2 linked regions of the Homo sapiens genome follow. The protein of the gene in region 2 purifies or fractionates together with the protein of the main gene of each other region. This does not show direct contact. Each region holds a gene or a part of one and is shown on either strand. Other genes may lie near its edges.

Region 1 (3,653 bases), on a different chromosome or scaffold from region 2:
GTGCTGCCTGTTCCAAATGAAGTGGGGGGTGGGTCCCAAAGAGGATAGGGATATCCCAGTAGGATGGGAATGCTGGCTAGGGGTTCACACTTGGGACCTGGCTTTGTCTCTGGCTATCCTTCTTTGTCTCTGGCTATCCTCAGGGATATTTTTTCCTTCAGGCACTCTCAGTGCTTCCTATGAGTTGAGGCAGGGACAGATCTCTTACCAGAGAACTCAAAAAGGTAAAGAAGCTGGTTGTACACTTCCATCTTACTTTTTCTAATGTAAAAATCATGAGCTCAGGGGAATTTTTCTGCTCACTTGGTGCCAGGCAGATTGTGGAGAAGGATAAGCAGATATGGAAGAACAATTCTCTTACTGTCTGCTTTAAGTTTTTTTTACTTCTCTGTGGCCCTAGAAACTGTCTCCTCCTTATATTGAGATCTGGGATACTGGTGGTGATAGCTTCAGTGCTGTATATTTGGTTTTGGTATTCTGCAGGGGGAAGGAGAGCCAGTTTGCTTCTATGCTGCTATTTTGCACTAGAAAAGATACCTTTTTTTTTTTTTTTTGAGACGGAGTCTCGCTCTGTTGCCCAGGCTGGAGTGCAGCGGCGTGACCTCGGCTCACTGTAAGCTCCGCCTCCTGGGTTCACGCCATTCTCCTGCCTCAGCCTCCGGAGTAGCTGGGACTACAGGCGCCCGCCACCATGCCCGGCTAATTTTTTGTATTTTTAATAGAGACAGGGTTTCACCGTGGTCTCGATCTCCTGACCTCGTGATCCGCCCACCTCGGTCTCCCAAAGTGCTGGGATTACAGGCGTGAGCCACCACGCCCAGCCCGTTTTTTTTTTTTTTTTGGAGAGAGAGATGGGGATCTCACCTTTGTTTTGTTGCCCAGGCTGGAGTGCAGTGGTGGTCACAGCCCACTGCAGTCTTGAATTCTTGAGCTCAAGCCATCCTCTCACCTCAGCCTATCGAGTAGCTGGGTCTACACGCATACATCACTATACTCAGCTAATTTTTTATTTTTTTATTTTTTGTAGAGATGAGGTATCACTATGTTGCCTAGGCTGGTCTCAAACTCCTAGGCTCAAGTGATCGCCTTAGCCTCCCATAGCACTGGGATTACAGGCATGAGTCACTGTGCCCAACTTTAAAAGTATAAAAGCTACATTTAATATAACTATATATAATCAAAATTAATTGTATAAAGATTAGTCACACAGCACCAAGAATCTAAGTACAGAACTTTATCAGAATTCCTGAGTACCTCAAAAGTCTGTTTCTGGGCTGGGCACAGTGGCTCACGCATGTAATCCCAGCACTTTGGGAGGCCGAGGTGGGCAGATCACTTGAGGTCAGGAGTTCAAGACCAACCTGGCCAACATGGTGTGACCCTGTCTCTACTAAAAATATAAAAATAAGGCCGGGCGTGGTAGCTCACAGCTGTAATCCCAGCACTTTGGGAGGCCAACGCAAGTGGATCACAAGGTCAGGAGTTCAAGATCAGCCTGGCCAAGATGGTGAAACCCTGTCTGTACTAAAACTACAAAAATTAGCCGGGTGTGGTGGCAGGCACCTGTAATCCCAGCCACTTGGAGGCTGAGGCAGAAGAATCACTTGAACCTGGGCAGCAGAGGTTGCAGCGAGCCAAGATTGCACCACTATACTCCAGCTTGTACGACAGAGTGAGACTTCATCTCAACAAAACAAAACAAAACTATATCTATCTATCTATCTATCTATCTAGATCTAGATCTAGATCTAGATACACACAAAAACTAGCCAGGCATGGTGGTGGCCGCTTGTAATCCCAGCTACCTGGGAGGCTGAGGCAGGAGACTCGCTTGAACCCACGGGGCGGAGGTTGCAGTGAGGCGAGATTGTGCCACTGCACTCCAGCCTGGGCAACAGAGTAAGACTCTGACTTCAAAAAAAAAAAAGTCTGTTTCTAATTTAAACAAAATATGTATGTGTGTGTGTGTGTGTGTGTGTGTCCTTCATCCATTACCTTTGGCAATCAAGGCAAAGTGTGGTCATGCAGGCAGGACAATTCAAGACAGCATCACTATTTGGAACAGGCTGTTGTTGACGTGATCTCTGTGGTCCCAAACCATGGTAACTAGAACAGAAGAAGAAAGTGGGGAGAAAAACATATTAAAACCAGATCTTGGTTTCTAGTGTCATTTTCCAATAAAAAGAACCAGTACTATTCAGAGAAATGGCTAATTCTAGGAATAAGGAACACAAGATGAACCTGGAGCATCTTTTAGTGCCAGAAAAGAAGGAAGTAATCAAGAAAACAAAAACAAAACAGTGAGGTGGTTATGACAAAGGGAAACAGGAGCCAACTGAACAAGTCACCAACTGCCAAAGCTGAAACTGAGCAACAAAATAAAGTAGGACTGGATTACAACCCAAAGTATAAATACCCACGAATCCACGCTAATATAAATGTACTGAATAAATAAATAAATGGAGGAGAACAGACAAATCCCCACACAGAATTCTAAATAATCTATAAAGATGCTCTTCCCTCACAGTGGTGGAGTATAACTCCCTAGTCCTTAAGTCTGGGTTGGACACAGTGACTTCCTTCCAAAGAGTACGGTATGGTAAGGCGGGGTAAAAGACTAACTTTACAGTAGAGAAAGTTAACACTGGTCAGCAAGGTGATCGAGGTCAATACCAACACACAAAACTCAGGTTGGTAGTATGTACTCTTGATATAATGTGAGGAAAATGGCTCTCTACTTCTATGTTCTTACTTATAAAAATCCATAATCCCATCCTAATTATGAGAAAAAACAACAGACAAATTCCAACAGAGGGGCCTCCTACATAGACCTGATTAGTGCTCCTCAAAGTAATTAAGGGCACTGAAAACAAGGAAAGTCTAAGAAACTGACAGAGTCAAGAAGAGCCCAGGGAGACATGACAACTAAAAGTGATGTACTATCCTACACGGGGTCCTCAAACAGAAAAAGAACAGTACATAAAAACTAAGGAAATGTTTTAAAATTATGGACTTTGATTAATAATAATGTATCAAGGCCGGGCTCGGTGGCTCACGCCTGTAATCCCAGCACTTTGGGAGGCCGAGGCGGGCGGATCACGAAGTCAAGAGATCAAGACCATCCTGGCCAACATGGTGAAACCCCATCTCTACTAAAAAAATACAAAAATTAGCTGGGCGTGGTGGCACATGCCTGTAGTCCCAGCTACTCAGGAGGTTGAGGCAGGAGAATCGGTTGAACCCAGGAGACGGAGCTTGCAGTGAGCCGAGATCACGCCACTGCACTCCAGCCTGGGCGACAGAGCGAGACTCTGTCTCCAAAAAAATAAAAAATAAAAAAAATAATAATGTATCAATATTAGTCCATTAATTGTGACAAGTGTACCAAAAATAAAAGTCCATGAATTTTTTAAAAACAGTAAAGCTACATTAAAAAACAAGCACACAGGCTGGGCATGGTGGCTCACGCCTGTAATCCCAGCACTTTGGGAGGCTGAGGTGGGTGGATCACAAGGTCAGGAGTTCAAGACCAGCCTGGCTAACATGGTGAAACCCCGTCTCTACTAAAAATACAAAAATTAGCTAGGCATGGTGGCGGGTACCTATAATCTCAGCTACTTGGGAGGCTGAGGCAGAGAACTGCTTGAACCCAG
Region 2 (3,566 bases):
TGGGGGCTTCAGAGGGTGGGGGGAAGATTGGGGAACGGGGGGAATGGTCATTTAGTTTTACTCCTGATAGGTAGATGCAGCTCTTACAGATATTTACTTGGTAAAGTGCAGTGGGGAAGAGGGAATGCTAGGTTGATAGGGCTGGTGGCTTCTGAATTTGGTATTTGAACTAGGAGTCCCTATAGAGGGGCTGCTTTATGGGAAGTTTTTCTCTGACCAGGTACAACACCTGACTTTAAAGGCCTGAAATGCTACCATTTCTTCCTCTGGCTCAAAATTCTTCCCTGGGGAGAGAGTTATATTCCCTTATTTATTGATATTTAGTCCAGAACACCAGTTCTAACGAAGCATGCGTGTCTCTTCATCTACAGGATGCAATAGGCTGATTGTATTTAAAAATCAAAGTACCCAAAACTGAGTCCCTTTGGGCTCAGAAATGTCTGTGGTATTGGGTCAGACTCTGACCACAGGTTTTATGCTGTTTAGCACAATTTCTATTGAGTCTTACCTGCAACAATGAACCTTAAAGATTTTTTTACTCACGTACCTGTTACACTTTAGCATACAGATAGATCATAGATCACGTTACAAGCACTTGGCTCAGGTCCAGCAAGGACAGATGAACAAATTCCTGAGTCAGAAGTCTGTTAATATTGCTGTTTTGAAGGACAATCCTTTATTTTACTTGAGACCTTACATCTTTGTTCTAGCTGACAGTAAATCTCTGGGTTTCTGTTACGAACTCTAAGAGGGCTGAAACTTCTGATATTCAGGTGGATCACCTGAATTCTCTCAGCTGTCAATGGCTTGGAGAACATCTCATGGGCCCAAGTCATCAAATAACCTGTTCCTCTCTGTAAGGGCAGTGTGAGGGACTGCTGTGCAGACCCAAGCAATCCCAACCTGGTGCTAGGTCATTTCACTTTTCTGAAAACCTCACATCAGGCTGCATCCTCTTCTGTCCCTGGCACCAGGCTTTGTTTACACTTGGAGCCACCTTGGTGTGGGTCACCGGGACAGTGTACTCCTCTCCTGCCAGCCTCCCCTTCCCCGAGGTGTGGTGGCTGCAGTCTCAGGAAGAGCTTGGTACTTGTGGGGACTTCTGTTTTCTCCCTGTGGAGATCAGTGAAGACTGGGAGGAAAGCTGCTTCAACCTGAGTCCGGCTCTTCAGCAGGCTGCACAAGTGGAAGCAACTAATTCTGGTGCTCAGGCTGGGCTCTCCACCCAAGTTAGGCCTGCTCTGGCCTAATGGATCTTACTGTATGAGCAGGACGGCTGCATTGGATTGTACAACTGTTTTGTGATGCCCCCAGACACTGTCATCCTGGGCCGAGAAGAACCTGCTAGCTTGACATACCCCATGGGCTTATCCTTAGGTTTTGGAATTGGTCAACAGTGAGGCAGTCTCCCTTCCTGACCATTCTTCTCCACCCAGTCACAGATAAGGGAATAACCTTGGCCATATATTTGCTCAATAAAGATTGAAGGAAGCATGGTCATAGTTGCCCTGGGTTCAGAGCATAATGCATATGTGAAGCATGGGGTGACATTCCTACTGTCATGGGTTTGGGATTTGTAACGGCAAATTCCTGCCCGACGACAGGGTGTCTTATGCAAAGGCTGACTTGCCTGAACGCTAAGAACATGACTTCTGTCTGAGCTAAGCTGGCACCCATCCCAGGGCTCCTCTGGAGCTAATCCTTTAAGCAAAATGTGCTTGCCTTTTAAAGATCCCTGACCCCAGCTTTAGCTTTCTCCACCAGATAACCAGCTAATCCCAGGAATTTGCTGCCCCCCACCAGTGGCTTCTAGGGAAAGCAAGGACCTCACATGCCAGGTGCCCTAGTACTTGCTTAGTGAGCCATGTCATCCTCCTTTCATTTTTGGATGGTGACAGCATTTTTCCCCTCTGTGCTGGATACAGACTTCTCCCAGGATCCTCTCTTTGGGAGCGAAGCCAGAGGATCCCTACAGCACTCAAGCTTCATGGTGGAATTAATTTCTGCCAGCTCTTTGTTGTCTGTCTCCTTAAATCCTTTTCCTGGTGTGCTTATTATCCCTTTTGCAGTGAGTACAGTTTATTAAGTTGTCAGCCCTTTAATATTGGGGAAACTTAATGAGTATAAATAGCAGGGAGCACATTGTAACAGCACAGTGTTTTGTTTTTTTCACCCGGTTGCTGTATGAGAATGGCTTTCAATCCTTTGTTTCTATGCCTACAGACAGAAAGCAAGATGTCTAATATTAGACATACAAGTTGCTGCCTGTTATAACGGTGAATTATACCTTTGTGCATGCCTAGGATGTTTGTTGTTTTAATTAGCTGCAATATATACGGCCTGTGTACACAGAATTTAATCACTTCGGCAGGTTGAACAACTCCATGTAGATAAGAGCAAGTGTAGGCAAAGGTTTAGAAAATGGACATAAAGTCAAAGAATGATGGCAGGTAGGATGAAGGAGAGATACTTAGGAAATCCTAAAAGAGGCGGCAAGAAGGTACCTCCCTGTGTAACTCACCTTCCCCCATGACAGTGAGTAAGAGACACTCACAGGCTATGAGGGTACACCCCTAGCTGAATGTTCTGTGTTGTTTCCTTAGACCTGTGGTGTCCGCTGCAACAGCTACTAGCCACGTGTAGCTAATTACATTAAAATGAAATAAAATTAAAAGCTCAGTTTCTCAGTTGCGCTAATCACATTTCAAGTGCTCAGCAGCCACCCGTGTCTACTACTACACAGTGCAGACACAGAACATATCATCACTGCAGATAGTTCTACTGGACAATGTTACGCTAGAATAAACACCAAGGCAGTCAGTTAAGGCAGCTATGGTTTGGAAAGGCATACGGACAGAGTCTGCTTAGAAGAGATACAAGTTGTTAATAAAATTGATCCTGTTGATAGTAGTTTGTTTTTGTGGTGGGTGCTGTGAAGAGTAAACATTACTCAGTGGAAAGCTAAGTTCAGAAGGTACTTTGTTTTTCCTCCCTTGCCTTAAGTCCTTGGTATTTATAATCAATGCTGAACCTTCTATTTCACTACCGCTCCCTGTTTTAGATATTCAGATTTAAAAGGTTTTCAAAGAATTACTTTCTTCCATGTTCAAAGCTAGATTTTACTAAACACATGTATCACATTCATATATATTGTTTCTTGGCCCCACTGCCAAAGGAAGTCAGTCAGTAATTTCACAACCGTTATCAGAGTTTGGAAGCAGAAATAGCTGTTAACTAAAATCTCCCACTGCTCAGACTACTTTCTGCCCTAATGGCCATTACTATCCAGTCTGTATTGCTACAAGGGACCCACTGGTACCCCTTTTAGATTCTATCAAAAGGAACAGGGTTTTCCTAGAGGCAGGCAGCCTGGTGGTATGGCACAGCAGAAGCTTACTGCTAATGAAATGGGAACCTCCCCCTCCCTTGTGGTTTCAGCACAGAACCTGAATGCCAGGAAAAATTCCTGGGCCAAGAAGCTAAAGCTAAAGAAACCTTCCTTTTTTCAACGTTTTTTTTTCTTTCAAACTGTAGGGTCACTTTTGATTGAGGCAAAGGGGTCCTAC

Evidence for each region. Proteins that work in one complex are often made in the same cells at the same time.
Region 1: the proteins of SLC7A6OS (region 2) and EAPP purify together in Homo sapiens (affinity purification with mass spectrometry, with the first as the bait; one large-scale study listed by BioGRID). This does not show direct contact.

Annotation. Positions count from the first base shown.
Region 1 is NC_000014.9:34,522,702-34,526,354, forward strand, and holds part of EAPP (E2F-associated phosphoprotein), read right to left. Parts: intron 2,107-3,653; coding exon 1,996-2,106; intron 1-1,995. UniProt on the Homo sapiens protein: May play an important role in the fine-tuning of both major E2F1 activities, the regulation of the cell-cycle and the induction of apoptosis. Promotes S-phase entry, and inhibits p14(ARP) expression.
Region 2 is NC_000016.10:68,297,517-68,301,082, forward strand, and holds the end of SLC7A6OS (probable RNA polymerase II nuclear localization protein SLC7A6OS), read right to left. Parts: 3' UTR 518-3,566; downstream 1-517. UniProt on the Homo sapiens protein: Directs RNA polymerase II nuclear import.